Regions from separate parts of the Homo sapiens genome. Here region 1 is linked to region 2. The links come from fine-mapping of genetic effects on gene expression. Tissue or cell type: whole blood. Region 2 holds a variant in brackets; the other region holds the start of a gene. All regions are shown on one strand. Distances are between the middles of the regions. Region 1 holds the start of LINC00885 (long intergenic non-protein coding RNA 885). Region 2 has its middle 13 kb from the start of TFRC.

Evidence for each region. PIP is the estimated chance that this variant, and not a neighbour inherited with it, causes the effect.
Region 1: LINC00885 starts here. The variant in region 2 is the best candidate, but not a certain one, in a credible set for the expression of LINC00885 in whole blood (TOPMed, PIP 0.74).

The regions. Positions count from the first base shown.
Region 1 is chr3:196,134,770-196,151,149 of GRCh38, forward strand. LINC00885 (long intergenic non-protein coding RNA 885) reads left to right here and starts at 7,867. Exons shown (of 3, transcript NR_034088.1): 1 at 7,867-8,231; 2 at 9,137-9,608. RefSeq lists enhancers at 981-1,781, 5,671-5,720, 5,771-5,830.
Region 2 is chr3:196,086,775-196,103,154 of GRCh38, forward strand. No RefSeq gene overlaps it. Among named protein-coding and RNA genes, the nearest start is that of TFRC, 13 kb to the left of the region's middle. RefSeq lists a silencer at 5,667-5,855 and an enhancer at 10,136-10,185. The variant C/G (reference allele first, on the strand shown) is at 7,029.

The sequences.
Region 1 (16,380 bases), 48 kb after region 2:
CAGACTGTCCCAGGAGAGACTTCTCTGCCCTCTTCTCCTTCTGAAACAGTCCTGTGCGTCCCTACTCTGCTCAGCTTCATCCCAATAACTCAGGAAGCAGGAAACACTCAGGAAGGGCTTACTCAGCACTAAGCCCTGGGAAATAGAGGCGAGCAAGACAAGGTCCCCATCCTTATGGAACTTACTCGTAACGAAGAGAATTTCAAACGGTGAAAAATGTATGCGAAGCACCGGGGAGATAGGACAGTGAGTGGCTGTGCAGAGATACTCTAAATACATGGCCCAGCTCATCCTCTCTGAGCAGGTGACATTGGAATCAAGAATTTCATTTGCTGAGCACGGTGGCCCACACCTGTAATCCCAGCACTTTGGGAGGCTGAGGTGGGAGGATCACTTGAGCCCAGGAGTTCCAGACGAGCCTGGGCAACATGGAGAAACCTTGTCTGTACAAAAGATACAAAAATTAGGCCGGGCACAGTGGCTCATGCCTGTAATCCCAGCACTTTGTGAGGCCAAGGTGGGTGAATCACCTGAACTCAGGAGTTTGAGACCAGCCTGGCCAACATGGTGAAACCCCGTCTCTACTAAAAATACAAACATTAGTCGGGTGTGGTGGTGGGTGCCTGTAATCCCAGCTACTCGGGAGGCTGAGGCGGGAAAATCGCTTGAATCCAGGAGTCGGAGGTTGCAGTGAGCCGAGATCGTGCCACTGCACTCCAGCCTGGGCAAAGAGTGAGACCCCATCTAAAAAAAAAAAAAAATTAGCCGGGCGTGGTAGTGTGCACCTGTACTCCCAGCTACTCCTGAGGCTGAGGTGGGAGGACCCCCTGAGCCCAGGAGGTTGAGGCTGCAGTGAGCTGTGATCACACCACTGCACTCCAACCTGGGTAACAGTGAGACTGTCTCAAATAAAAAGAAAGGATATTTCATGATACTTCTCTGTTGATGTGTGTCCCTCCCTTTGTCTGATGGGGTCTGTGTCTTAGTACACATATCTCAGAGGTCGCATAGTGCCTGGTACATAGACAGAGCTTGCAGATGTGAATTGAATGCATGGATGGACAGTGAGACCGTGGAGGGGATGGTCCAACCATCCTCTGCACTGTTCAGACCCATGAGGAGCTCTGAGTCCAGGTCCAGGGAGGCAGATTCCTCCCCAGAACCCCTCGACTTATCACCGAAGAGTGCATAGGAGACTGGAGAGGTTGAAGAGCTTGCCCCACTGCACAGCCAGCTGGGCGGCATAGCTCCCTGGTGAGCTCAGCACAGCAGTGGGAAACAGAGGTGAAGGGCAGAGCCTTGAACTTGGCTGTGTTCTCTACCCACTGTGTGACCTCAGGCAACTCACCCAGCTCTCCAGCTTTGAGAGTTGGGTAACTTGCCCGACTCTCATTGGGCACCTACCTCATTGAGTTCTGTAAGGATTAAATCGAGATAAAATATGTAAAGAACTCAGCAGGCAGGTGGGCTGAGAAAAAGGGAGCAGCCAGCATGTCTGTTTCTGCAGTGCCTCAGGCACCAGGGCCTGCCAGTGGCCACAGAAATGGAGTTGACCTCACCGGCTCCCTTCCAGTCTCCCAGGCTGTGGGGCAGTGACAACCCCAAGCAGGAGGCTGGAGGCACAGACTTCCAAGAAGGAGGAGACGAGGCATGCTGGTACATTTTCCACCTTACTCCAACCCTTCACCCACATCCTGACTTCTTCAAAAGAATTATTGTATAAACAATATAAAGGCATTAAAAAAAACTGCAAAGGAAAAACGAACCACCTATGATCTCAGCATTCGAGCCCAACAAGGTTGTTTTCTTCCTGTCTAGTTCTTCCAGCTTGTCCAGGCATGTACATATTTTATTTCGCTGTAGTCAGAGTCATTATTTATTTTTTGCTTGTGTAATATTTTTATCATAAATGTTCATTCACAATCCTGTAGTCTTCATAAGTAGAATTTTTTTTTTCCCCCTTCAGGACAGAGTGTTGCTCTCGTCGCCCAGGCTGGAGGGCAATGGCGCAATCTCGGCTCACTGCCACCTCCGCCTCCCGGGTTCAAGGGATTCTCCTGCCTCAGCCTCCCAGTAGCTGGAACTACAGGCGTGCACCACCCCATGCCCATCTAATTTTTGTATTTTTAGTACAGACAGGGTTTCGCCATATTGGCCAGGCTGGTCTCAGACTCCTGGCCTCAGGTGATCCACCTGCCTCGGCTTTCCAAAGTGCTGGATGACAGGCGTGAGCCACTGCGCCTGGCCCATAAGTAGAATTTTTAATGGCAACCTGATATGCCACCAAGCTGATGCGCCATCAGTTATTTCTTCATTATTCTCTTGCTGGATATTTTCTTCTTTTTGCTGTTGAAGGACAACATATTTATACATAATTTTAATTTATTTACTTACTTATTTTTGAGACGGAGTCTCAGTGTATTGCCCAGGCTGATGTGCAGTGGAGTGATCTCGGCTCACTGCAACCTCCACCTCCTGGGTTCAAGCGATTCTCATGCTTCAGCCTCCTGAGTAGCTGGGACCACAGGCATGTGCCTTCACACCCAGCTAATTTTTGTATTTTTACCAGATAAACGGTTTCACCATGTTGGTCAGGCTGGTCTCGAACTCCTGGCCTCAAGCGATCCACCTGTGTTGGCCTCCCAAAGTGCTGGGATTATAGGCGTGAGCCACCGCACCCGGCCCCAAATTCTTTATGGCTACATTGCTCCCCAGAGTGGAATAATTTACACTTTTCTAGCAGCATGTGAGTACCTTCCAACCAACTCGGCACGGGCTTTTGTGCTGTTGATATGGTTGCATCTTGTCAGTTTCATCTGGTACAGTGTGGTGTTATTCACTGTTGAACTTCCTCTCGAATAAAATTTAGTTCATATTTTTTGCTCATTATCAGTTTTTGTTTTTGTTTGAGACAGGGTCTGGTTCTGTTGCCAGGATGGAGTGCTACGGTGCGATCTCAGCTCACCGCAGCCTTGATCTCTCAGGCTCAAGTAATCCTCCTACCTTAGCCTTCTGGGTAACTAGGACTACAGGCATGTGTCACCAGGCCTAGGTAATTTAAAAAAAAAATGTGGCCAGGCATGGTGGCTCACGCCTGTAATCCCAGCACTTTGGGAGGCTGAGGCGGGCAGATCATAAGGTCAGGAGATCGAGACCATCCTGGCCAACATGGTGAAAACCTGTTTCTACTAAAAATACAAAAATTAGCTGAGCATGGTGGCACATGCCTGTAGTCCCAGCTACTTGGGAGGCTGAGGCAGGAGAATTGCTTGAACCCGGGAGGCAGAGGTTGTAGTGAGCCAAGATCACACCACTGCACTCCAGCCTGGGCAACAAGAGCAAAACTCCGTCCCCAAAAAAAAAAAAAAATGTTTAGTAGAGACGAGGTCTCATTATGTTGCCCAGTCTGGCCTCAAACTCCTGAGCTCAAGTTGATCCTCCCACTTCAGCCTCCCAAAGTGCTGGGATTACAGGTCTGAGCTACCATACCTGGCCTAGCTTATCAGTCTTATTAGCTATTTATGAACCTTGTCTTTTGTCATTATTTGCTGCAAGCTCTTCCTCCAAATCTTTTTCTTTTTCAAAATTATATTTTTAAAAAGTTATAAAAGCAATACATGTTTATGGTAGAAAATCTGAAAAATAGAGAAAAAGTCATAAAATATATGCCACCACTTAAAATTAACCTTTATTATCCTGTTTGTCTGTCTGTTTTTGAGACAGGGTCTGGCACCGTCCCCCAAGCTGGAGTGTTGTGAGTGTGGTTCCCAGCAGCCTTGAGCTCCTGGGCTCAACGATCCTCTGGCATGAGCCGCTGTGCCTGGTGTTATTATCCTGTTTCAAAACCAGCTGTGAAAAGATAATTTGACCCTATTGGGAAATGAAGATATGGACTGGTTGTTGGATGATACTGAGGAATTTTTGTTAGTTTTGTTGAGGGCGTAATAGCAGGGTAGATGTATGTTTTCAAAATCCCTTATCAGTTTACATGCTCACTGGAATATTTACAGGAAAATTCATGTGACGTCTTGGCTTTGCTTTTAAAAACTCCAGCACACACACAAAAATAAATAAATGATTGGGGAAAATTAGATAAAACCAAATTGGCAGTATTTGTTGATACTAGATGATGGATATATGAGTATTCATTTCATTGTTCTCTCTACTTTTACGTACATTTGAAGTTTTCTGTGACTTACGTTTAAAAGTTATCTTCTCAGGAGGACTCCCAGGCTTAGCTTGCCTAAAATTCCAATCCCATCTCCTTGGCTGACTTTCATACTCCTCACTCCTGCTTTGTTTTTCCTCCTTAGCATTTCATCACGACCTGCCACGCTAAACGCGTTCTTAGGTATCTGGTCATCTTGGCTTCTTACCTCTCCCCAACTGGAATGTGAACTCCCTCAGGAAGGAATTTTACTGTTTTCTTCCCGCCCTTGCTATCAACAGTGCCTGAGTATTCAAATCATTATCACATGAAAAACAAACTCACTGTTAACATTTTTCTTCGGTTTTTTGTTTTTTTCTGAGACAGGCTCTCACTCTGTCACCCAGGCTGGAGTACAATGGCATGATCTCGGCTCACTGCAGCCTCAACCTCACAGGCTCAAGAGATCCTCCCACCTCAGCCTCCTGAATAGCTGGGATTGTAAGCACGCATCGCAATATTCGGCTAATTGTTATTTTCTGTAAAGACAGGGTGTCACTCTGTTGCCCAGGCAGGAGTGCAGTGGTGCCATCACGACTCACTGCAGCCTCAACCTCCGAGGCTCAAGCGATCCTCCCACCCCAGCCTCCCACCTCAGACTGTAGTCATGAGCCACCATGCCCAGCCAATAAAAACTTTAAAAGACCTTTCTAAACCATCAAGGTTGGAGGCATTAAGGATTTTTGTTGTTGTTACTGCTCATTTCTTTTTTCTTTTTTCTTTTTTTTTGAGACAGAGTCTCACCCTGCCCCCCAGGCTGGAATACAGTAGAGCGATCTCAGCTCACTGCAACCTCTGCCTCCTGGGTTCAAGTGATTCTCCCGCCTCAGCCTCCCAAGTAGCTGGGATTACAGGTGCCCACCACCATCCCCGGCTAATTTTTGTATTTTTAGTAGAGACGGGGTTTCACCATGTTTGCCAGGCTGGTCTCGAACTCCTGACGTCAAGTGATCCACCTACCTCGGCCTCCCAAAGTGCTGGGTTTACAGTCCTGAGCCACGGCGCCCGACCATCATTTCTTAACGAGCATACATTAAAATTTCCAGGCAGTCAAACTTAGTGACTGCTTTACAAACATGAAATATCACACCAATATTTAAAGAAATGAGCAAAACCTGTTTTTAAAAATTTACACACACCAAAAACGACATGGAAAACCTAGGCCCACTTTTAGGATCGCCCTCTAGACAAAACAAATAAGGAAAGGCTAATCTTTGAGGAAAATATCCTATAAAATATACCTGAGGGGAGAAAGCCCCTATCATGAAGAAATGGTTAGAGCTATTCTGTTTCCCTTGTGGTACTTTTATCACTCTTTAAGAGAATCCATCACAGGCCTTCAATCTCTAGCCAGCCTAGACACAGATGTGCGTGGGCCGACCCAGCAAGGGGCAGGAGGAAAACCCCTCTGCTTCCTGTCCCCGGCTTCTCCCACTTACTCCCCCGCCCCCCACCTCTGCCCGTCTAATGGTTCCCTGGGCCGACTCGGTCGCCCTGCCAGCCTGTCCTCCTTCACTCAGGCACACACTGTTTCCACGCCCGGGAGCCTGGCTCACTTGCAGAGCTATAAAAACAGACATCCACCAGGCACGGTGGCTCACGCCTATAATCCCAGCACTTTGGGAGGCCAAGATGGGTGGATCACCTGAGGTTAGGGGTTCGAGACCAGCCTGGCCAACATGGTGAAACCCCATTTCTACTAAAAATACAAAAAACTAGCCTGGCATCATGTCATGCGTCTGTAATCCCAGCTACTTGGGAGACTGAGGCAGGGGAATCGCTTGAACCCGGGAGGCAGAGGTTGCAGTGAACCGAGATCACACCACTGCACTCCAGCCTGGGCAACAAGAGCAAAACTCCATCTCAAAAAAAAAAAAACAAAACAAAAACACTCAGACATCAGGCTGGCCGCCGTGGCTCATGCCTACAATCCCAGCACTTTGGGAGGCCGAGGCAGGGAGGATCCCTTAAGCCCAGGAGTTCAAGATCAGCCTGGGCAACACGGCGAGGCCCCGTCTCTACTAAAAATACAACAAAATTAGCTAGGTGCAGTGGTGCTTGTGGTGGTCTCAGCTACTTGGGAGGCTGAGGTGGGAGGATCACTTGAGCCCAGAAGGCAGACAGAGGTTGCAGCACTGCACTCCAGCCTCGGTGACAGAGTGTGACTCCAAGTCACAGGAAAACCCAACAAAACACAGACGCCGCCCCCACCTGCTTTGCCCGACTCTGCAGAGTCCCACCCGGATGATCTGGGGGAGGGAAGGAGTTTGTCTTTTTCGAAGCCCTCTGTGGTTTTCGGATGAGCGGATTTAGGGACAGTCTGCACATGTCTTTCACTCCTGCTATGGACCCCAGAACCCACCACAGTGCCTGGCTAAATTGCACGTGCTTAAATAAATATGGAACAAATGAACCAACTGACCTCTTTTGATGTTCCCAGCCATTCTGTGAGGCAGAGGATCAAATGGGTATTATTGTCCCCATTTGACAGAGGCCCAGAGAGGTGACAGGAATTCCCCAAGGTCACAGATGGAGGGGCCCGAGGCTGCCTCCCACTACCAGGCTGATTTCCAGAGGCTTAAGGTGGGGGCTGAGTTTAAGGAGGGGAAAAAGAAAAACACATCCCCTTACCTAGTGGGTAGAGAGGAGTAGGGGCAAGGGAGAGAAAAGAGGAAACGAAAGAAGAGGGGAAAGAGGAAAGAAGAAGGGGAAGGTTAGAGATGCCTAAAAGCATGGAACTGGAGGAAAGACATCAAAATAACAAAGAGCAAGACTAGCCGCGTGGTGGCTCACGCCCGTAATCCCAGCACTTTGGGAGGCCAAGGTGGGCAGATCATTTAAGGTCATGAGTTCAAGACCAGCCTAGCCAACATGGTGAAACCCTGTTTCTACTAACAATACAAAAAAATTAGCTGGGCGTGGTGGTACATGCCTGTTATCCCAGCTACTCGGGAGAGTGAGGCAGGAGATTCACTTGACCCTGGGAGGCAGAGTTTGCAGTGAGCCGAGATCATGCCACTGTACTCCAGCCTGGGTGACAGAGTGAGAGTCCTTCGAAAGAGAGAGAGAGAGAAAGAGAGAGAGAGAGGAAAGAAGGAAGGAAGGAAAGAAAAGAGAGAGAGAGAGGGAGGGAGGGAAGGGAGGGAAATGAGGGAAGCTAAGAGGGGGTTGGGCTGCAAATCCTATCTCTGGGCAGCGGGTCTGGGCCCCTCGTCCCTGCAGCAGGTCTGGGCCCCTCGTCCCTGCAGCGGGTCTGGGCCCCTCGTCCCTGCAGCGGGTCTGGGCCCCTCGTCCCTGCAGCAGGTCTGGGCCACTCTTCCCTGAGTTTGATGCTTGGTTTGGAGTCAGGGCTCTGAGCCCAGAGTCCCTGTGGAAAACACATCCCTCCACTGACTATGGCCTCTGTCCCACAACCTCCCCCCTCCCCAGGCCTGTGTGTGTTTAGACAGCTTGCCCTGCATTTTTAGAACAATTTTTAACTTGTAGGCTGTACCTGCGGAACCAGAATGTCTGGCCAAGACCTGTTACCTAACAGCCTCAGACCATTTGGGTGCCAACAGCAACTGCAGCTCTGGCCCAAGCCAGGTGTGGGCTGACCTAGCCAGGGAGCGGGGAAGTGAAAGGAATGGGTCCCTTCCCACTCAGAGGGCGGAGCCCCCACTTCTGGTGAGAGAAAGCTGAGCAGAATGGATCTAATCTGATTCCTCCACCCAGAAGCCCTTAAAATGCAGCTTTGTTTTAAGCCTTCTTGAAGATTTGGGCTAGATCTAGAAAAGAACCTCACCACGGAGGATGTGCAAAGTACAACACGTGACCCCGGAGACGGAAGCTCTTCTCTACCTCCGTAAAGATGATCTCTGATGAACAGACATGATCATGCCTGGAGAACAGGGATGGACAGTCCCGCTTCTGAAAGACCCTGTCTGGCTGATGATTCATGGTGCGCCGGGCAGACCCCAGGCCAAGAGACCCCACCCACAGTACCTGAGTGCTCAGCTGGGAACCAGACCAGACCTCAAAACAGGTTTGCAGAATTAAGATGAGGAGCTGAGCTCAACACAGCCTCCGCAGCTCCCCAGGGCGGGCCTGAGCCGAGGGAGAGCCCATGGCCATCAGGGTGCTGGAATGCATGTCACACTGCATTACGTGCATTACGATCCACGCTGCAATGACAGCCCAGAGCGTGGAGAACCCAGAGAGGGTGGGGAGATGGAATCCCGGCGAGCCAGCGCTGGCAGGGACCACGGGGAGCAGCTGGTCCAGCCGCCGGTTTTCCAAGAGAGAAGACTAAGAAGTGAGTCACTTGCCCACAGCCACAGAGAGAAGGAGGGCAACGAGGCCGGCAGGTCAGCAGCGAGCAGTTAGTTCAAGGCCTTGAGGGCTTCCACTAACTTTGAAGGGCGAGGATGGGCGGAGCTCTGGAGGCCGCCGGGGTAGGTTCGAGGGGAGTGTTCAAGAAGCCTCTTTTTTTTTTTTTTTTTTTTTTTTTTTTTTTTTTTTGAGACGGAGTCTTGCTCTGTCACCCAGGCTGGAGTGCTGTGGCGTGATATCGGCTCACTGCAACCCCCACCTCCCAGGTTCAAGAAATTCTCTTGCATCAGCCTCCGGAGTAGCTGGGATTACAGACACCCGCCACCACACCCGGCTAATTGTTGTATTTTTAGTAGAGACGGGGTTTCACCATGTTGGATAGGCTGGTCTCAAACTCTTGACCTCAGGTGATCCACCCGCCTTGGCCTCCCAAAGTGTTGGGATTACAGGCCTGAGCCACCACAACAAGCCAAGAAGCCCTTTTTGTAGAGTTCTAATCCTGGGTCTGCGGCTGAGCCATGGTTGTGTTCACAAAGCAGAGCAATCAACCGGGCATAGGGATGGACCTCCTGGGGCCAAAATGGCGGCTGACATCTCCACCCTGACCTTTCTTCTCAGGTTCCCAAGGTTACCACCCAACCCTGCCAACTTTCGCACCCCGCAAGGAGCAAGACCCCGCCCGCTCACCACCTGCCTGTGCAGCCAACGGGCCTCGCTGAGCTGCCCTGGGCCGCTCCCTCCATTCACACAGTTGGCCCTCCCTCTCCCTGCCTCCCTTCGCCTACCCCACGAACTACTTCATCCCTCTGGGCCGGCACTGTAGAAGCCCCATTGTTCACATCGACCTCCCAATTATCTCCTCTTTCCCTCTCCCTCTGCTCCTGCCCAGACCAGCCCCCCAGCATTGACCTGGATGCCTGCCACAGCCTCCTCCCTGGTCTCCGGCCTCCCACCTCTGCTCCTCGGTCTCCTCTACCCAGCCAGTAACTGCAGAGAGCACTAAAGCACAGTCCTGGCATCTCACCCCCTTAACCCTGGCCACGGCTTCCCAGTGCCTCCAAGATAAAGCACCAACACCTGAGGACAGCAGGTGAGTCCTCCCGGAGCTAGCTCTCCCCCACCTTCCTGTCACCCTCTGCCCCAGGCTCTGCCCGTGCTGCTGCCCCCTGAACCCACACTTCCGTCTTTTGCTTTCCCTTTCCCTGGGATGCTCTTATACCCCCTGGCCCCCTGGGATATCTTCTCATCTGTTAAGTCTCAACCCAGAGCTGCTTCCTCTGGGAAACCCTCATTGGTCTCCTCGGGCAGAGGCTGGTGTTTTTCTCTCATGCGTCCTCGGGCAGAGGCTGGTGTTTTTCTCTCATGCGTCCTCGGGCAGAGGCTGGTGTTTTTCTCTCATATGCCTGCAACAGCCTGGGATTTCCTCTCTCAGCGCTTTTTTTTTTTTTAATCAAAAAAATTTCGACGGGGAGACAGGATCTCACTATGTTACCCAGGCTGGTTGTGAACTCCTAGCCTCAGGTGATCCTCCTGCCTCGGCCTCCCAAAGTGCTGGGACGACAGGCATGAGCCACCGTGTCTGGCCCTCTCAGCACTCGCTACCGAGGGTGTTCTAATACTTCATTCGCCTGCTGTGGGAGGCAGCCTCTAAGATGACGCTCAGTGATCCCTGCCTCTTGGTATTTCCTGTGTAAAACCGTCCCCTTGAATGTGGGCTGGGCTAATTGACTCACTTTTTAATTTATTTTTCAGAGACAGTTTTAAATTTATTTTTCATTCTATTGCCCAGGCTGGAGCACAGTGGCATAATCATAGCTCACTGCAGCCTCAAACTCCCGGGCTCAAGTGATTGCCCACCTTAGCCTCCCTAGTAGCCAGGAATCCAGGCGCACACCACCACGCCTGGCTCTGATTGACAGACGCACACCACCACACCTGGCTCTGATTGACAGGCACACACCACCACACCTGGCTCTGATTGACAGGCACACACCACCACACCTGGCTCTGATTGACAGGCGCACACCACCACGCCTGGCTCTGATTGACAGGCACACACCACCACAGCTGGCTCTGATTGACAGGCACACACCACCACGCCTGGCTCTGACTGACAGGCGCACACCACCACGCCTGGCTCTGACTGACAGGCGCACACCACCACGCCTGGCTCTGACTGACAGGCGCACACCACCACGCCTGGCTCTGACTGACAGGCGCACACCACCACGCCTGGCTCTGATTGACAGGCACACACCACCACAGCTGGCTCTGATTGACAGGCACACACCACCACGCCTGGCTCTGACTGACAGGCGCACACCACCACGCCTGGCTCTGATTGATTCACTTCAAACCAGGAGAATCTGTAACTGCCCATGTGCTCTTCTTGCCCAATGCCCAGTTAGAGCTGATTTATTACAACAGGGGAATTGCAATAGAGAAAGAGTTTAATACACGTAGAGCCAGCGAAATGGGAGACCAGAGTTTTATTATTACTCAAATCAGCCTGCCCCAAAATTCAGAGGCGAAGGTCTCTTAAGGAGAGTTTGGTGGGCAGGGAGCTATGGGACGTGTGCTGCTGATCAGCTGGGGGGGCAATCACGGGGGTGTGGAAATTGGCCCTTGTGCTCTGAGGCAGCCTCTGGGTAGTGGCCACAGAGGAGCTGCTGGTTTGGGTGGGGCCTTCCGGTCATCAGTAACCTGAAACCCTGAAAAGAGATCTCAAAAGGCCAATCTTAGGTCTTACAGTAGTGATGTTATTTACAGGAGTCATTGGGGAAGTTGCAAATCTTGTGACTTCTCATGGGAATCATCTCACAGCACCCACATATTCGCGGAATTCATGCCCCTTTCCTCCTCTTAACCCAGTGGCCTTTGGAATAGTGGCTGGGAATCATCTCACGGCACCCACATCTTCGTGGAATTCATGCCCCTGTCATCCCCCTAACCCGGTGGCCTTTCATTAGTTTTACAAAGGCAATTTAGTTTTGGAAAGGGCTATTATCATTTAAACTATAAACTACATTTCTCCCAAACTTAGCTTGGCCCACACCTGTGGATGACCAAGGGCACCAGCCTGAACAACACGGTGAAGCCCCTCATCTACTAATAATACAAAAATTACCCGGGCGCTGTGGCGTGCCCCTGTAGTCCCAGCTACTCAGGGGGCTGAGGCAGGAGAATGGCATGAACCCGGGAGGCGGAGCTGGCAGTGAGCCGAGATCACACCACCGCACTCCAGCCTGGGCGACAGAGCCAGACTCCGTCTCAAAAAAAAAAAACAAAAAACAAGCAGTGAATGTGGATCTAAACAAAATCACAACGTAACTCAATCAGGAGGAAGAGAAGGGCAGAGAGTTTCTGTGTGGTGGGGACAGGGAGAACAAAAATGAGCTACATCCTCATTGTTCACAGTGAAAACTCAATAGATTTATCTCAGGCTGGGCACAGTGGCTCACACCTGTAATCCCAGCACTTCGGGAGGTTGAGGCCGGCTGACCACTGGAGTCCAGGAGTTCGAGACCAGCCTGGGCAACATAGGAAGACCCCGTCTCTACAAATAATTTTAAAAATTAGCCAGGTGTGGTGGTGCATGCCCGCGGTCCCAGCTACTCAGAAGGCTGAGGTAGGAGGATACCTGAGCCCCTGGAGGTCGAGGCTGCAGTGAGCTAAGATCACACCACTGCACTCCAGCCTGGGCGACAGAGAGAGACCTGTCTGAAAAAAAAAAAAAAGAATCATCTGAAAAAATTGACAGTGGTTGAAAATCATTGACATGAGGCCAACTAATTAACAGAAAAAAGGCATAAAACTAATTTACATGCACATAGGGAGAGTCAGGGTGCCTGCGCCCCAGTGGGGTTCAGAAGCTCATACAGCATCCTGGCAGCACAGTTTATGGGAGGCAGGAAAAGAGGGGGATAAAGGATTACTAGGGAAAGTAAATGGATCTAGGAACAGAGATCAGTTTACATACTATTTTGTGGAAAGTTCTGTTCAAGTTTGGTTACATTCCTGGCTTTACAAATAATTGCTCCTTGTGGGTCTGGAACTTGACCAATTAAAAAACTTCAACTTCTTTGGGGAAAGGTCAGAGAGACCTCAAGGCTTCTTCGGTCCCATATGTCAAAGCACCATATTCTGGGGTATTGGTTTCTGAGTTCCAGCACCTGTAAGGAGTAGAAAAAGGAGTCTGAGTTGCAAAGGATGGGGGTTTTCACACCAAGTAAACTCATAAAACTATGTTCAAGTATAACTCTATTACAAATTAAAATACAAATCTACCACGGCTGGGCACAGTGGCTCACGCCTGTAATCCCAACACTTCGGGAGGCTGAGGCGGGCAGATCACCTGAGGTCAGGAGTTTGAGACCAGCCTGACCAACATGGAGAAACCCCGTCTCTACTAAAGATAGAAAAATTAGCCAGGCACGGTGGTGTGCACCTGTAATCCCAGCTACTCGGGAGGCTGAGGCAGAGGAATTGCTCGAACCCAGGAGGTGGAGGTTGAAGTGAGCCGAGATCGCACCACTGCACTCCAGCCTGGGTGACAGAGCGAGACTCTGTCTCAAAAAAAAAAAAAAATCTACCACAATGTCTACATATGGAAGGTGCTCCAAAAGCGTGAACCATTAGAATTCCTATGGAATGACGTTTTCATCAAACAGCTTTTGCTATACTTACAGGTGGATGTGATTGCAAACAACAAAGCCTGAACTCAGATGGGGAAAGAATCAGTGGGGATCATATTGTGTCATGTCCAAGAGGTTCACAGATCAAATTCAGGCATGGCTGGATCCAGGCGTTCACAGCGTGCCAACAGAGATCTTGCTGTCTCCATTTCTTGGCTCCATTCACTGTGTTGACTTTGCTCTCAAACAGGCTCCTCTCAGACCTTAGCACACTGGCCTCCAGCGGTTGCAGGATTCTATACTGCTGGCTTAGTGCTCCCAACAGAAAAAGAGTGTCTCTACTTGGTAGTTGCAACCAAATGCCTCAGATAGACACTGACATGGTTTGGCTCTGGGTCCCCACCCAAATCTCCAGTTGAGTCCTAATCCTCAGTGTTGGAGGTGGGGCCTGGTGGGAGGTGGTTGGATCATGGGGTGGATTTCTCATGAATGGTTTGGCACCATCCTCTCGGTGCTGTTCTCCATAGTGAGTTCTCGAGAGATCTGGCCGTTTGAAAGTGTGTGGCCCCACCCCCTCGCTCTCTCTCTTGCTTCTGCTCCTGCCGTGTGAAGTGCCTGCTCCCGCTTCGCCTTCTGCCATGATTGGAAGTTTCCTGAGGCCTCCCCAAAAGCCGGGAAGAGGCCAGCGTCATGCTTCCTATGCAGCCTGCAGAACTGTGAGCCAATTAAACTTCTTCTTTTTTTTTTTTTTGAAACGGAGTTTCAAAAAAACAACGGAGCTCTTGTTGCCCAGGCTGGAGTGCAATAGTGCAATGGTTGGGATTACAGGCATGCACCAACACGCCTGGCTAATTTTTGAATTTTTAGTAGAGTACAGACGAGGTTTCACCATGTTGGTCAGGCTGGTCTCGAACTCCCAACCTCAGGTGATCTGCCTGCCCCAGCCTCCCAAAGTGTTGGGATTACAGGCGTGAGCCACCACATCTGGCCAATTAAAATGATTTCTTCTTTTCTTTATAAATTACACCGTCTCAGGGTTTTTTTTGTTTTGTTTTTTGTTTTTTGTTTTTAGACGGAGTCTCACTCTGTCTCCCAGGCTGGAGTGCAGTGATGTGATCTCAGCTCACTGCAACCTCCGCCTCCTGGATTCAAGCGATTCTCCTGCCTCGGCCTCCCAAGTAGCTGGGACCACAGTCACACACCACCACGCCTGGCTAATTCTGTATTTTTAATAGAGACAGGGTCTCACCATGTTGGCCAGGATGGTCTCGAACTCCTGACCTCAGGTGATCCGCCTGCCTCAGCCTCCCAAAGTGCTGGGATTACAGGCGTGAGCCACCGCACTCAGCCAGTCTCAGGTATCTTTTTACACCAGTGTGAGAACAGACTAATACAGACACTCATTGATCTGGCTTGGGTCACATACCCACCCTTGAACAGATTGCCGTGACCAAGGGAATAGAGCACTTGGATTGGCTAAATCCCAGTCCTAAGCCGACCGCTGGAACCACGGACAAAGTGGGGGCAGAGTGGTCTCACAAAGAAAAATATGGATGCTTTTATTAGAAAGAGAGAAGACGCTGCAAAACCAACAGGTCTCCCCTGTGTCTGAAGACTGAGACTAGGCCAGGCACGATGACTCACACCTGTAATCCCAGCACTTCGGGGGGCGGAGGCAGGCGAATCACTTGAGGTCAGGAGTTCAAGACCAGCCTGGCCAACATGGCGAAACCCCATCTATACTAAAAATACACAAATTAGACAGATGTGCTTGTTTGAACCCAGGGAGTGAAGGTTGCAGTTAGCTGAGAGTGCGCCACTGCACTCTAGCCTGGGCAACAGAGTAAGACTCTGTCTCAAAAAAAAAAAAAAAAAAAAAGACTGAGACTGCTGTTTGCCTTCATCAGCACAGAAGCCGCTAGTTAGGAACCATTCTCCTAGCACACCCACTCCCTGTGCTTCACAAAAGCAGGTCAATGTTTACAGAAGTCCCCTCTTCCCACGTCTTCTCATCTTCAGGGGAAACTGTTGCGAGGAACAGAGGACTGGAGAGACCAATACGGGAAACAGGAGGATGTTTATTTAAGGTGCACCAGCTCAGAGGATTCGTATCCAAAAAGCTGAGCATTGAACAAAGTCAGGGTTTAGCTTATATAGGCCAGCGCAAAGGCTGTCAATCACACAGTGACAGCTTCTGTCATCTACAGCATAACTAGTGACTTGGCACAACCTGTGCCCTTGCATAGCGGGTAACCTTGCAGCTGAGGCAAAAGAAAACAGGAACTTACAAATCTGACTAAGTACAAGCATTGGCAAACATAGTCAGAATTATTAGTTCAGAGAAGGAGAGACAGTCAAGGAATTTGGTTTTGGGGATTTTTTGTTTTTCAACCATGCTCGGGGGTGTCTGGAGCCTATTCTTGCAGCTTTTGCTTCTCAGACTAGGTCACCGCGACCTTTTTATAGCCTTGCCTGTTACTATCCTTAAAGTAAATAAATGCAGTACTTATGTTTCTTTAAATTTCTGCCTCAAAACAACACTAATTCTCCTGATTGTCTTTCATGACAGTTTCCAGACCTCTCACTTTTCTGGCTGTCTTTCCTGGATGCTGAGTAATGTCAAATGTGGCACTAAAATTCAGCACCCAGGGCTGAATGAAGCTTCAGGTGTGCCCCGATCAGCCCAGAGGCCAGTGGCATGCTCAGCTCAATTCTGCTTGGCAGCAAAGCCACTTACAGATGCACTGGCTTTTCAAACGACTGAATGCATTGTTGACTCTTACTCAGCTTGCAGCCAATATCTTTTTTTATGTGAGCTGTCATCAAGCCAGGGATTCCTCATTCTCCATTGGTGCAACTGGCTCTTGAACCTACATCAAGAACTTTGTCCGTGTTCATTTCACATTGTAGGTCTTAGTGCATTTTTGCTGTTCTTTGAGGTGTTTTTGAATATAGATCCTGTCTTCAGTACTAACCATCTCTCCGGGTTTTGCACAATCTACCCATTTGAATGGAGACATTCTTAATTTTCATCCAAGAGGATAATAAAATAAATCAGGGTCAAGGTTAAAACTCACAACCAGGCGTGGTGGCTCATGCCTGTAACCCCAGCACTTTTGGGAGTCCAAGGCGGGCAGATCATTTGAGGTCGGGAGTTTGAAACCAGGCTGGCCAACGTGGTGGAACCCACCCCCCATCTCTACTAAAAATACAAAAATTAGCCGGGTG
Region 2 (16,380 bases):
GCCTCCCACAGTGCTGGGATTTCAGGCGTGAGCCACCGCGCCCGGCCCTTCAACGGCTTTTGAATGCACCTACTCCAGAAAAAGTGACTTGGTCATTGATAATAGTGGATACAGAAAGGTAATGCCATCATTATTTATCGAGTACTGTTATGTGCTGGAAAAGGACGTGTAAAGAGGTAAGAAGCAAGTCTGTACCCCTGAAAAGGCAAACAATGTAGCTGGGGAAGCATAATGTATATTTATAAGAACTTATATTTAAAGGCCAGGCCTAGTGCGGTGGCTCATGCCTCTAATCCCAGCACTCAAGAGGCCAAGGCAGGAGGATCGATTGCTTGAGGCCGGGAGTTCAAGACCAGCCTGTGCAACACAGTGAGACCCCCTATCTCTACAAAAAAAACTTAAAAATTGCCAGGTGTGGTGGTGCTGCCTGTAGTCCCAGCTACTCTGGGGGCTGAAGTGGGAGGATGGCTGGAGCCCAGGAGTTCAGGGTTACAATGAACTGTGATTGCACCACTGCACCCAGCCTGGGCAACAGAGCAAGACCCTGTCTCAACTAATAATAATAATAATAATAATAATAATAAATATATAATGCCAGTCACTGTGGCTGTAGTGAGCCGAGATTACATCACTGCACCCAGCCTGGGCAACAGAGCAAGACCCTGTCTCAAATAATAATAATAATAAATATATAATGCCAGTCACTGAGGCTGTAGTGAGCCGAGATTGCACCACTGCACTCCAGCCTGGGCAACAGAGCAAGACCCTGTGTCAAATAATAAGAATAATAAGAATAAATATATAATGCCAGTCACTGTGGCTCATGTCTGTAATCCCAGTACTTTGGGAGGCCGAGGCAGGTGGATGGCCTGAGTGCGGGCATTTGAGACCAGCCTGGACAACATGGCAAAACCCCATCTCTACCAAAAATACAAAAAATTAGCTGGGCATCTGGAGGCTGAGGTGAGAGAACAGCTTGAGCTTGGGACGCTGAGGCTGTAGTGAGCCAAGATTGCATTGCTGCACCCAGCCTGGGCAACAGAGCAAGACCCTTTCTCAAATAATAATAATAACAATAATAATAATAATAAATATATAATGCCAGTCACCGTGGCTCATGTCTGTAATCCGCAGTACTTTGGGAGGCCGAGGCAGATGGATGGCCTGAGTGCAGGAGTTCGAGACCAGCCTGGACAACATGGCGAAACCCCATCTCTACCAATAGTACAAAAAATTAGCTGGGCATCTGGAGGCTGAGGTGAGAGAATGGCTTGAGCTTGGGAGGCTGAGGCTGTAGTGAGCTGGGATTGCATTACTGCACCCAGCGTGGGCAACAGAGTGAGACTGTCTCAAAAAAAAAAATCCCACAAAAATACCATTAATTTGCCAACTTTGTAATAGAGTTACAAAGTTGCCACTTGCTCTTTCTGGGGTCCTACCTGTGGCCCAAACAGCAGATGAAGTCTCTTAGTTCAGCATTTCTCAAACGTTTTTTACTGCATTTCATGGACAAATGTCCATCTTACTTCACAACTCAGTACACCCATGTGTATGCGTGTGTGTATGCGTGTGTATACACGTGTATATTTCCTTCAGTATACCCACGTGGATGTGTGTGTATATATGTGTATATTTCCTTGAAACCCAAAGTAAAAGTTTCATGAAATAATACCCTTGAGGTGTGGAAAGCCCTCCAGAATTTTCTATTCTATTTAATAGTAAAAATGCTAATTTTTAACCCATTCAATTGATTTCCCAATGGGCCGTAACCTATTTTTGAAAAGCATAGTCCTAGGCCATTTCCTCTCTCAGAGCACAAGACTTTTTAGTGAACAGGATAAATGACTTTTTAGTGAACAGGATAAATGATGCTCAAAGTTAAATTTCAATTCCCAAGGTTTCTCCCTGTTCTTTCTGCTTGTCGCTGTTTCAACTTTCTACCGCCCTACATTTCAGCAAATATTGGTTACGGTTTTTTTGTTTGTTTGCTTGTTTGTTTGTTTTTAATGAGTTGGGAGGCTGAGTTAGAAGGCAGAGAGAAAGTCTTTTCAATCTTTTTTTTTTTTTTGAGATGGAGTCTCACTCTGTCACCCAGGCTGGAGTGCAGTGATGCAATCTCGGCTCACCACAACCTCTGCCACCTGGGTTCAAGTGATTCTCCTGCCTCAGCCTCCTGAGTAGCTGGGACTACAGGCGCACCACCACGCCTGGATAATTTTTGTATTTTTATTAGAGATGGGGTTTCACCATGTTGGCCGGGCTGGTCTCGAACTCCTGACCCCATTGATCCACCCGCCTCAGCCTCCCAAAGTGCTGGGATTACAGGCGTGAGACACCACACCCAGTGTTTTCACTATTTTTACTTTTTTAAATTTCTTAAAATAAAATATGTAGAACGAGGGTCTCCCTATGTTGCCCAGGCTGGTCTCAAACTCCTGGGCTCAAGGGATCCTTCTGCCTCGGCCTCCCAAGGTGCTAGGATTACAGGCTTGAGCCACCATGCCCGGCCTGAAGTCTTTTCAAATGCTGTCAAATAGCTGCACACACTCCGGTCAGTGAGGGCAGCACCCTGCCTGTCACACGGCTGGTCTTCACAGCAGCTTCTACAGAAATCACTCTAACCTACCTTTAGCTCTGACCCTAGCTCCTATTTAACATGCCGGATCCATTTTATTTTCCTTGGAATCCTAAGCCTCGGGCAATCACTTTAGGACCAGAGTCATAAAATAAAAATGTGGAGCTCTGCCACTTTGGAAGAGGATGCAACCTAGAAAAAAGGCAGGTGGACTGTCAACTCATAGATTTGAGGTTGATACTATTTTCCATTTTATTTTGCATTTCTTTTTCTCCACCCTCAGTTTCCTGTCCTTATCCTGCTGACTCAATTATTTTTTCTTTCTCCATTGCCAAACGGAAGGTCACCCACGAGAACATGGAATAGGGGCAAGATTCAGATTAATATGGAGGAGTTTGCTCCCATTTTATAGCAAATGGAAAGGTTACTTAGGACAGTGAAAGATAACTAATTTTGTTTTTTTTTTGTTTGTTTGTTTGTTTTCTTTTGAGATGGGGTTGTGCTCTGTCACCCAGGCTGGAGTGCAGTGGCACGATCTCAGCTCACTGCAATCTCCACCTTCCGGGTTCAAGTGATTTTCCTGCCTCAGCTTCCTGAGTAGCTGAGATTACAGGTGCCCACCACCATACCCAGCTAATTTTTGTATTTTTAGTAGAGATGGGGTTTCACCATGTTGGCCAGGCTGGACTCGAACTCCTGACCTCAAGTGATGCACCCACCTTGGCCTTCCAAAGTGTTGGGATTACAGGCGTGAGCCACCATGCCTAGCCAAAGACAATTTTTAAATTGATTACAAGGACATTTATGCCAACCAGTACAGTGGTCTAAGTTGAAGTTTTGAGTAGGATATGAAGTTCTATTTAGTCCCATTCGGAGGCAAAATAGAACTCACTGCATAATAGAGTTTCAAGTTCAGAAGGAACTATATAACTAATGTACTGTCTCTGACCTATAGTAGGTGCTCAAAAAATGTATGTTGAATTAATTCAACAAAATTCCTCTACTTCACCTCATCAGGTGGTTATCTAGTGTCTCCTTTACCTCTCCAATGGGAGCAAATCTATAATTTCCCAAAGCAGAAAGACCTGGGCAGTTTGAACTGTCAGAAAGTTTTTATCTGGGCCAGGTGCGGTGGCTCACGTCTATAATATCAGCACTGTGGGAGGCCAAGGTGGGCAGATAACCTGAGGTCATTCAAGACCAACCTGGCCAACAGGGTGAAACCCCATCTTTACTAAAACTACAAACATTAGCCAGGCATGGTGGCGCACACCTGTAATCCCAGCTACTCAGGAGGCTGAGGCAGGAGAATTGCTTGAACCCAGGAGGCGGATGTTGCAGTGAGCTGAGATCGCACCACTGCACTCCAGCCTGGGCGACAGCGTGAGACTCTGTCTCAAAAGAAAAACAAAAGTTTGATCTACTAAACTAAATTCTCTCTCCCTCTTCTATATATTAATTATTTTATATATATATATATTTTTTTTAAATAGATATGGGGTCTTGCTATGTTGCTCAGGCTGGTCTCAAACTCCTGGGATCAAGCAGTCCTCCTACCTCAGCCTCCCAAAGTGTTGGGATTACAGGTGTGAGCCAACACGCCCATCCTATAAATTAATTATTGTTTGAAGACTGCTCTCCTGTTCACAGCTGTCTTCTCCAGCTAAATATCCAAATCTCTTCTAATGGTTACCACAGGGCGTGATTCCATGTCTCCCCACCCACTGGTCACTTTGTGGTTTTTTTTGTGTGTTTTTTTTTTTATTTTTTTGTTTTGAGATGGAGTTTCGCTTTTGTCGCCCAGGCTGGAGTGCAGTGGCATGATCTCCGCTCACTGCAACCTCCGCCTCCCAGGTTCAAGCGATTCTCCTAACTCAGCCTCCCGAGTAGCTGGGATTACAGGCGCCTTCTACCACGCCGGGCTAATTTTTGTGTTAGTACAGACGGAAGTTTGCTGGTCTCGAACTCTTGACCTCAGGTGACCTGCCCGCCTTGGCCTCCCAAAGTGCTAGGATTACAGGCATGAGCCACCGCGCCAGGCCCCACTGGTCATTTTTGGAAGTATAGTTTGGCCAATCCAGAGGGGGCAGGAACATCATTCCCCTGTTGTAGATGCTGCAGCTTTTGGTGGCCATCTGTCTGCCACCATATTCACTACCTTAATAGCCACTGTCTATTGTTAACTTCTGTTGAGTTTTCAGCAGGGTTCAAGGGAATAGATCAATCTTTGGAGCAGAAAGACCTGGGCCCCAAATCTAGTTTTGCCGTGTACTAGTACCCTCTATGCTCCTTTTATCATGGAGAATGTGATATCCAGGTACTGTTACAGTCTACTATAGCGTATGAAGAGGATCTGTCCCCGCTTATCACCAGTCTAATTCAGCTGGAGGTGGAAAAGAGCCTGATCTATTTGGCTAGGAACATCCTTGCCTTGGAGCTGAATAAAAATAGCCAAGGTTTATTGTACATCTACCAGGTGCTCCATTCTAGCGCCTTTAAACATATGAGCTCATGCAATCCTCAGAACAATTCTTAAAAATAAATTCTTAAAAAAAATTAAAAACTCTTAAAAATAAAGAGGTAATCCCATTTTCAGGTGTGGAAACTAGCTTAATACAGAAGTAAAGTAACTTGCCCCATGTCACATGGCTAATAAATAGTGACAGCAAGAATTCAAGCCTAGGTCATCTAGCTTCTAACCTGGCCCTAAAAAATTCCACTACACTGCCTCCTTACAAACCCAGGCATGACACAGACTGACTGCACCACCCGCACAGCTCTGCAGACACCTCCCCAGGGAAGAATTTCTATTCAAGAGGTACAGGGACCATCTAGGTGGAACCATTTGAGAAGATCTAGTATCTGAGGGATCTATTTTTTTTCACTTCAGATTTAAGTTAATTTCAAAATTTGGATTCATATTCCTATGTGGGGAATCCCAGATATTTCTTTCTTTTCTTTCCTTTTTTTTTTTTTTTTTGAGACGGAGTTTCACTCTTCTTGCCCTGGATGGTGCAATAGCGCCATCTCAGCTCACTGCAACCTCCACCTCCTGAGTTCAAGCAATTCTCCTGCCTCAGCCTCCCAAGTAGCTGGGATTACAGCCATGCGCCACCACGCCCAGCTAATTTTTTTTTTTTTGAGACGGAGTCTCTCTGTGTCACTGAGGCTGGAGTGCAGTGGTGTGATGTCGGCTCAGTGCAACCTCTGACACCAGGGTTCAAGCGATTCTCCTGCCTCAGCCTCCTGAGTAGCTGAGATTACAGGCAAGTGCGACCACACCCGGCTAATTTTTGTATTTTTAGTAAAGACGAGGTTTCACCATGTTGGTCAGGCTGGTCTCGAACTCCTGACCTGATCCACCCGCCTCGGCCTCCCAAAGTGCTGGGATTATAGGCGTGAGCCACCGCGCCTGGCTAGAATCCCAGATACTTCTAAAAATAAGAGTTTGTAGTACAACTGATGCTCCAGAAATCTGGGTACCATTTGACAGAAATGCAGTGCATTCATATTGTCCCTGCAAGCTAGCTCATTTGCTTAAATTTCCAGAATGCGTACCTACCTTTGATAAGGAGAGTTATTGAATTGATAAAATTATCGTATGAATGTATATATATTAAACATTGTTTCTGGGCCGCATGGCAAAACCCTGTCTCTACAAAAAAATACCAAAAAAAAAAAAAAAATGCCAGGCATGGTGGTACACTCCTGAAGTCCCAGCTACTTGGGAGGCCGAGGCGGGAGGATCCCTTGAGCCCAAGAGTTTGAGGCTGCAGTGAACCGTAACCATGCCACTACACTACACTGGGAACAGAGTAAGAGCCTGTCTCAAAAATAAATAAATAAATACTTCAAAAAAAAAAAAACTTTGTTTCCAAAATATAAATTAGTCAGTTTGGTTTTTCTTATTTGCATCTTTATCTTTCTTTCTTTTTTTGTAGAGACAGGACCTTGCTATGTCGACCAGGCTGGTCTTGAACTCCTGGCCTCAGGCTATCCTCCCACCCTGGCCTCCCAAAGTGCTGGGACTGCAAGCATCAGCCACTGTACCCCGCCTCTTATTTGTATCTTCTTTTGACATCTGAGCTTGCAACTCTCACTTATGTCTGAGTTTCCCTTCCTCTATGGCTGGGACCTTAAGCAATAATACTTCTGATAAACTGTGCGCCAGATGGCCAAACATTGCCTAAAAAAAATGACTAAGAAAGAGGCCTTTGAAAAGAACATTGTGAAGTGGGGATGACTGATGATGTAAATAGGAAAAATGAACAAATGTGTGAAGAAAACATTTGCAAACAGACGTCTACATCTAAATCCCAAGTCAGCAAATCTAGTATTCAGGAAAAATACCAAATAGGCAGAAACTTTTTGGTTTCTTCAGCTTTAATATACACAGTAGACAAATTTTCCTTTGGTTTGGAAAATGTTCCTGCCAAAACTTGTATTTCTTATA[C/G]ATGGAAATGTGGTCAAGGAGGCAGCTGTACAGTGGTTACATTTGTGAGAGCTGGAGTGGCTTCCCTTGGTTCATCTCACACAATCCCCTAAGTGGTAGGAAGACCCGTATCCCAGGGCTGGGGTGCCCAGGTGTCAGAGTGCGGTAACGTTCGCTGAGCACCTATGGTGTCCAGGTACTGAGCTGGGAACTTATATTTGTATCATCTTACTTTGGCCCCCAACAATTCTGTGAAACAGGTATCATACCTATTTTATAGATGAATAAGTAGAAGTGTGAAGAATATAAAAGGATTGGCTGAAAGTGGCACAGCTTTTAAATAGCAAGACCCTAACTTCAGATCTCTGTGATTTCTGTTTTTTTTTTTTTTTTTTAAATAAATGTTAAGAGATATAGCAATGGGGATCTCACCATGTTGTCCAGGCTGGTCTCAAACTCCTGGGCTCAAGCAATCCTCCCTCCTTAGCCTCCCAAAGTACTGGGATTACAGGTGTGAGCCACCATGCCTGGCCAGGTTTCTGTATTAAAACCACTTTTTACTATATCTCAGGTATGGAAATATGAAAACACTGTTGTAGCAGGCGGGTAGTTGAAGCTCTGCACTCAGGGTAGGCTGACGTACTGCCAGGCTCTGACCAGGACCTTACAACAATACCCATCCTTGGAAGGTTTGAGTCAACTTTATAGCTGAATTTGATGCCAGGAGCACAAAGCAAAAGATCCCCATATATAAAGACAAGGTTATAAGGTACAGTGTGCCTGGTACAACTATCTTCCAGAATGCTTCCCAGAAGTAACATAGCTGGGCACCCTGGCACATGTTTATACTCTCAGCTACTTGGAGGTGCTGAGGCAGGAGGATCATTTGAGCCCAGGAGTCAGAGGCCAGCCTGAGCAACATGCTACGAAGGGGGGCAGGCTTCTCTGATAAGGTCGAGCCCAAGTAGGCAATGAGAGCAGAGAATTCCAAAGGGAGAGACAGTTCTGGGCCCGTGAGCCAATCCTGCTAGCCAGGTCCCCTCCAACCCCCTATTCCAGGCAGACCACTTCTGTGTCAAGGTCTGAAATCCAGCCTTGACTTTATTTTATTTATGTATTTTTTGAGACAGCTCTGCTGTACAGGCCAGAATGCAGTGACATGACCATAGCTCACTGTAACCTCAAGCGATCCTCCTGCCTCAGCCTCCCAAGTAGCTGGAACTACAGGCATGTGCCATCACACCTGTCAAATTTTAATTTTTTTTTGTAGAGATGGAGTCTCACTGTGTTGCCCCGGCTATTTTTGAACCCCTGAGATCAAGGGATCCTCCAGCCTTGGCCTCCCAAAGTGCTGGGATTACAAGCGTGAGCCACCACGCTGGGCTAATTTTTAATTTTTTTTTGTAGAGACAAAGTCTCACTATATTGCCCAGGCTATTCTTGAACTCCTAAGCTCAAAGGATCTTCCAGCCTCCTCGGCCTCCCAAAGTGCTGGGATTACAGGTGAGAGCCAGCATGCCTGGCTCTAGCCTTGGCTTTATTAAGGTACAGGCAGGTTTTCCTGCAGGTAGTAAGATGAATAAAGGTTAGATTGGTTTTGAGATCCAGATAGAGGCTAGACTCTAGCCTAGCGCTTCTTTTTTTTTTTTTTTTTTTGAGACGGAGTCTTGCCCTGTCTCCCAGGCTGGAGTGCAGTGGCGTGATCTCTGCTCAGTGCAACCTCCGCCTCCTGGGTTCACGCAATTCTCCTGCCCCAGCCTCCCGAGTAGCTGGGATTACAGGCACATGCCTCCACACCCGGCTAATTTTTGCATTTTTAGTAGAGACGGGGTTTCACCATGTTGGACAGGCTGGTCTCGAACTTCTGACCTCATGATCACCTCAGCCTCCCAAAGTGCTAGGATTACAGGCATGAGCCACCACACCCAGCCTAGCCTAGTGCTTCTTAAACATTCATGTGAGCTCCATGCAGTGTCACATCTATAATCCCAGCACTTTGGAGGCCAAGGCAGGAGGATTGCTTGAGCCCAGGAGTCCAAGGCTACTCTGAGCTATGATTGTGCCACTGCAGCTAAGCCTTGACTACAGAGTGAGACCTTGTTTCTTAAAAATATATATATTCATATACATATATTATTTATTTTCATTTATTATTTATTTATTTATTTTTGAGAGAGAAAGAGACGAAGTTTCACTCTTGTTGCCCAGGCTGGAGTGCAGTGGCGCAATCTCAGCTCACTGCAACCTCCACCTCCCGGGTTCCAGTGATTCTCCTGCCTCAGCCTCCTGAGTAGCTGGGACTACAGGCACCCACCACCACGCCCGGCTAATTTTTGTATTTTTTGTAGAGAAGGGGTTTCACCATGTTGGCCAGGCTGATCTCTAACTCCTTACCTCAAGTGATCCACCTACCTCAACCTCCCAAAGTGCTGGGATTACAGGTGTGAGCCACCATACCCAGCCCTTGAAAATATTTTTTTAAAGAAACTTTAATGTGCAGATAAGTCCCATGGAGGGGACGTGTTAAAATGCAGATTCTGATTCAGAAGGTCTGGTGGGGGTCCAAGACGGTGTTTCTAACAAGCTCCTAACTGATACCCAGGCTGCTGCTGGTCTTAGACCAACCCTTGAGTAGACTTTAGAGGAAGAAGTTTTTATTAGCTGTTTCTACAACACTCCCCACAGAAAGGGCACCCTGTGTGGCCAGCTGGCATGAAAGCGGTTTCTGCTTGGCAGCTATTTTTAGGTAGCTGTAATGCATTCTATTTTTTGCATTCTAAGCTTTTCAGTGGACCAGGGCGATCCCTGGGGCTGTCCCAGCTTCAGCAACGGTCCCTAAGACCATTCAGCTACTTTGCAGCCACTGCACAACTGCCAAACAATCCACTAATCCTGATCTTGAAACAATTTTCCCTCCTGAGAAGACACCAGACCTCAGCAGGAAGACTTGGCCTGCACAGCAGTTCTCTTACCCCACACGAATTAATAAATAGGCCTCATGAATCGGGATTTTGTGCCCTTGGGTAGCGAATTACCTGATGACTCTGGTGAACTGACGAAACTGAGTTTGTGAAACTGTGAGCCGGAAGAACAGTCTACAGCTGTCGTGGACTCCCCTGAACCCCTGGGAAGACGCAGCTCAACAGCCAGTCCACACGAACCCTGCTCTGAAACCTCTCCTGCAGACTGGGCCTGGGCTAGAGAAGAACAGGAGTTTTCTTTTCTCCTTTTTTTTGAGACGGAGTTTTGCTCTTGTTGCCCAGGCTGGAGTGCAGTGGCATGATCGTGGCTCACTGCAACCTCTGCCTCCTGGGTTCAAGTGATTCTCCTGCCTCAGCCTCTGGAGTAGCTGGGATTACAGGCGTGCACCACCACGCCCAACTAATTTTTGTAATTTTAGTAGAGATGGGGTTTCACCGTTTTGGTCAGGCTGGTCTCAAACTCCTGACTTCGAGTGATCCACCCGCCTCGGCCTCCCAAAGTGCTGGGATTACAGAGATGAGCCACCGCGCCAAGCTGTGAATTGATTTTTTAGTGAAACTTCAGGGAGCCAAGGACTTTGGCCCCCACAGTACCATCTGGATTATTGGGAACAGGTGCAAAATATATAGGGCCAGCGAAAACTCTCAAAGGAATGATTGACATTATAAATTTAGAGAGGAAGGACTGCCTTCCTTTCTGTGACAACAGCACTTTAATGTTCCAAAACAGGATGTCCTTGGATTTGGTTTTAATGCTTATGTATATAAGGTTAGCTATTGCCAGGAGACTGATACAATTAATCAGAGTCCATCTCTCCCTTCCAGGCACACCTTCACTTCGCTGCAGTTTCTCATGGCCATAAATCCATTAGAGCAAGAAACAGCAAGATTAGTAGAGGGCCATAAATTTAGATTCTGGGCCATTTTACCTGATAAGTCTTTTTGTTCTTTTCTCTTTTTTTGAGATAGGGTCTCACTCTGTCACCCAGGCTGGAGTGCAGTGGAGTGGCCATGGCTCACCGCAGCCTCTACATCCCAGGCTCCAGCCATCCTACCTCAGCTTGCAGCTGGAACTACAAGAGCACGTCCCCACCCCTGGCTAGTTGTTTTGTAATTTTTGTAGAGACAGGATCTTTCTATGTTGCTAGGGCTGGTCTCAAACTCCTGGGCTCCAGTGATCCACCCACCTTGGCCTCCCAAAGTGCTGGGGTTTCAGGCGTGAATCATCATGCCCAGCCAGAAACCAGTCTTAAAAGACTGTATACTATAATGATTCTATTTATATGACATTCTGGAAAAGGTGAAATTATAGAGACCTAAAATACATCAGTGGTTGCCAGAGGCTTGGAGAATGAAGTATAGGCTGAATAGGTAAACCATATATGATATTTTAGGGCAGCGAAACTCTTCTGTATGGTACATGAGACTGCATTTTTCAAAACCCATAGAACTGGCTGGGTGTGGTGGCTCACGCCTGTAATCCCAGCACTTTGCGAGGCCAAGGCAGCGGATCACTTGAGGTCAGGAGTTTGAGACCAGCCTGGCCAACATGGTGAAACCCCGTCTCTACTGAAAATACAAAAAATAGCTGGGCATGGTGGTGGGTACCTGTAATCCCAGCTACTCAGTAGGCTGAGGCAGGAGAATCACTTGAACCCAGGAGGCAGAAGTTGCAGTGAGCCAAGATGGCACTTCTGCACTCCAGCCTGGGCGACACAGTGAGACATCATCTCAAAAAAAAAAAAAAAAAAAAAAAAAAAAACTTTAGCTGGCTGAGCGGCACGCGCCTGTAGTCCCAGCTACTCAGGAAGGTGAAGCAGGAGGATCCCTTGAATCCAGGAGTTCATGAGCTATGATCATCCCACAGCACTCCAGCCTCCGTGACAGAGCAAAACCCTGTCACTAAAACAAAACAAAACAAACAAACAAAAACCCATAGAGCACAAATTTCTCTACAGCACAAATTTCAACCTTAATATATGCAAATGTTAAAGCGGGAGTGGGAGGGTTCCCAGGATGGAATGCAAACTGTTATAAAGAACCTCACCATGCTACAAACATGACCTAACATCCAAGGGGAAGGAAGGGAAGTGCTGGGTGTTGAAGGGGATGGAAGGGAAGTGCTGGGCATTGAAGGGGATGGAAGGGAAGTGCTGGGCGTTGAAGGGGATGGAAGGGAAGTGCTGGGCGTTGAAGGGGAGGGAAGGGAAGTGCTGGGCGTTGAAGGGGAGGGAAGGGAAGTGCTGGGTGTTGAAGGGGAGGGAAGGGAAGTGCTGGGTGTTGAAGGGGAGGGAAGGGAAGTGCTGGGTGTTGAAGGGGAGGGAAGGGAAGTGCTGGGTATTGAAGGTGAGGGAAGGGAAGTGCTGGGCGTTGAAGGGGAGGGAAGGGAAGTGCTGGGCGTTGAAGGGGAGGGAAGGGAAGTGCTGGGCGTTGAAGGGGATGGAAGGGAAGTGCTGGGTGTTGAAGGGGAGGGAAGGGAAGTGCTGGGCATTGAAGGGGAGGGAAGGGAAGTGCTGGGTATTGAAGGGGAGGGAAGGGAAGTGCTGGGTATTGAAGGGGAGGGAAGGGAAGTGCTGGGTATTGAAGGGGAGGGAAAGGAAGGGAAATGCTGGGTATTGAAGGGGAGGGAAAGGAAGTGCTGGGCATTGAAGGGGATGGAAGGGAAGTGCTGGGTATTGAAGAGGATGGAAGGGAAGTGCTGGGTATTGAAGGGGAGGGAAGGGAAGTGCTGGGTATTGAAGGGGAGGGAAGGGAAGTGCTGGGTATTGAAGGGGAGGGAAGGGAAGTGCTGGGCATTGAAGGGGATGGAAGGGAATTGCTGGGCGTTGAAGGGGATGGAAGGGAAGTACTGGGCGTTGAAGGGGAGGGAAAGGAAGTGCTGGGCATTGAAGGGGAGGGAAGGGAAGTACTGGGTATTGAAGGGGAGGGAAGGGAAGTGCTGGGCATTGAAGGGGATGGAAGGGAAGTGCTGGGCATTGAAGGGGATGGAAAGGAAGTGCTGGGCATTGAAGGGGATGGAAGGGAATTGCTGAGCGTTGAAGGGGATGGAAGGGAAGTGCTGGGCGTTGAAGGGGAGGGAAGGGAAGTGCTGGGCGTTGAAGGGGAGGGAAGGGAAGTGCTGGGCGTTGAAGGGGAGGGAAGGGAAGTGTTGGGCGTTGAAGGGGATGGAAGGGAAGTGCTGGGCGTTGAAGGGGGTGGAAGGGAAGTGCTGGGCGTTGGGGGTGGAAGGGACGTGCTGGGCGTTGAAGGGGATGGAAGGGAAGTGCTGGGCGTTGAAGGGGATGGAAGGGAAGTGCTGGGCGTTGAAGGGGATGGAAGGGAAGTGCTGGGCGTTGAAGGGGATGGAAGGGAAGTGCTGGGTGTTGAAGGGGATGGAAGGGAAGTTCTGGATATTGAAAGAGAAGGAAGGGAAGTGCTGGGTATTGAAGGGGATGGAAGGGAAGCGCTGGTCTAAGTGACTTTGGAAATAAGTGAAGACTATAAGACTAAAAATAAAAGGAACTGTACATAAGCACTGAACTCTAACAGCAAAATTGTTTCCCATGGGGATATGGGTTAACAACTGTGAAACCACTCTACATTGTGCTGGGATTGAATGGATGGCAAGCCAGGGAGCCAGGTAGCTCACCGTTGTCTACACACACACACACACACACACACACACACACACAATTCTCTCTTGCTTATATTAATGTGTATATAAATATACATACATTAACAACTGTGTGTGTGTATATATATACACACATATAAATATATATGCTAATAATCATGTATGTGTTTATGTGTGTGTATGTATTATACAAGAATCATGTATGTGTGTTACATACATGATAGTTAATGTATATATATTTATATGTGTGCACCAGTTAGTACACACATATAAAAACTACAAAGCAAGTCGGCCAGACATGGTGGTTTATGCCTGTATTCCCAGCACTTTGGGAGACCAAGGCAGGAGGATTGCTTGAGCCTATTAGTTCGAGACCAGCTTGGGTAACTTGACAAAACCCTGTGTCTACAAAAAATACAAAAATTAGCCAGGTGTGGTGGCAGGTGCCTGTAATCCCAGCTCCCGAGGAGGCTGAGGTAGGAGGATCACCTGAGCCCGGAAGGTCAAGGCTGCAGTGAGCTATGATCGCACCACTGCACTCCATCCTCGGTGACAGAGTGAGACCCTCTCTAAAAAAAAAAAAAAAAGTCTGAAAAAGAAAACACAACAAGTATAGAGAAAGTCAAGAAAACTGAAGTTGTCTTTTTGAAAAGACCAACAAAACTGACAAAACAGTCTGGCGCTCACGCCTGTAATCCCAGCACTTTGGGAGGCTGGGGTGGGAGGATCACTTGAGGCCAGGAATTAGACACCAGCCTGGGCAACAGAGCAAGACTCCTGACCCCCAAGTCTCTACATGAATTTTTTTGTTTGTTTGTTTGTTTGAGATGGAGTCTCACTCTGTCGCCCAGGCTGGAGTGCCCAGGCTGGAGTGCAGTGGCGCGATCTCGGCTCACTGCAACCTCTGCCTCCCGGGTTCCCGCCATTCTCCTGCCTCAGCCTCCTGAGTAGCTGGGACTACAGGCACCCGCCACCGCGCCCGGCTAATTTTTTGTGTGTTTTTTAGTAGAGATGGAGTTTCACCATGTTAGCCAGGATGGTCTTGATCTCCTGACCTCGTGATCCGCCCACCTCGGCCTCCCAAAGTGCTGGGATTACAGGCGTGAGCCACCGCGCCCGGCCGAAAATTTTTAAAAATTAGGCATAGTGGAAACCTGTAGTCCTAGCTACTTGGGAGGCTGAAGAAGGATTGCTTGAGCCGAGGAGTGACCAATGATCAAGCCACTGCACTCCAGCCTGAGTGGCAGAGTGACACCCTGTCTCGATTTTTTAAAAAACTGACAAATCTTTTGCTAAACTGACCATTTTAAAAAGAGAAAAAGTGGCCAGGAGGGTGGCTCACGCCTGTAATCCCAGCACTTTGGGAGGCCAAGGCAGGCGGATCACGAGGTTAGGACATCGAGACCATCCTGGCCAACATGGTGAAAACCCATCTCTACTAAAAATAGAAAAAAAATTAGCTGGACGTGGTGGTTGGCACCTGTAGTCCCAGCTACTCGGGAGGCTGAGCCAGGACAATCACTTGAACCCAGGAGGTGGAGGTTGCAGTGAGCTGAGATCGTGCCACTCCACTCCAGCCTAGCGACAGAGCAAGACTCTCTCTCAAAAAAAGAAAAAAAGTTCAATATATGAAAATCAGCAATTAAAGAGGACATCACTATATACCTTACAGAAAAAAAAATAAATAAAAGGTGGCCAGGTACAGTAGCTCATGCCTGTAGTCCCAGCACTTTGGGAGGCTGAGGCAGGCAGATTGCTTGAGCCCAGGAGATCTGTTGTCCAGGAGATCTGAGATCAGCCTGGACAACATGACAAAACCCCATCTCTACAAAAAATACAAAAATTAGGCAGGTGTGGTGGCACAGGCCTGTAGTCCCAGCTACTCAGGGAGGCAGAGGCAAGAGGATGGCTTGAGCCCTGGAGGTTGAGGCTGCAGTGAACCCTGACGGTGCCCTGCACTGCAGCCTGGGTGACAAAGTGAGATCCTGTCTCAAAAAATAAATAAATAAAAATAGATTATAAAAGAATACCATGAATAACCATATGCCAACAAATTAGATAACTTATATAAAATAAAATGGGCACATTCCTTGAAAGACACAAATTTCTGAAACAGACAGAAGAAGAAGGAGAATATCTAAATAGACCTATAGACCTACAGCAAGTAAAGAGATTGAATTCATACTGACAGTGGCTCACACCTATAATCCCAGCACTTTTCAAGGCCGAGGCAGGAGGAGCACTTGAGCCTATGAGTTCAAGTCCAGCCTAGACAATGTAGCAAGACACTGCCTCTAATACAAAAATTAACACTAAAACAACAAAAACACTCAACAAACTAAAAGGAGCTACCTCAATCCAATAAAGGGCACATACAAAAAAACCTACAGCTAACAAAGTGAAAGACTTTCTCCCTACCAAAACAAAGATGTCCACTCTCACCTGTTCAACACTGTGAAGGAGGTTCTAGCCAAAGCAATTAGACAAGAAAAAGAAACAAACAGGCTGGGTGCGGTGGCTCATGCCTGTAATCCCAGCACTTTGGGAGGCCGAGGCGGGTGGATCAACAAGTCAGGAGTTCGAGACCAGCCTGGCCAACAAAGTGATACCCTGTCTCTACTAAAAATGCAAAAAATTAGGGGGTCGTGGTGGTGGGTGCCTCTAATTCCAGCTACCAAGGAGGCTGAGGCAGGAGAATCCCTTGAACCCAGGAGGCAGAGGCTGCAGTGAGCTGAGATCGTGCCATTGCACTGCAGCCTGGGCAACACGAATGAAACTC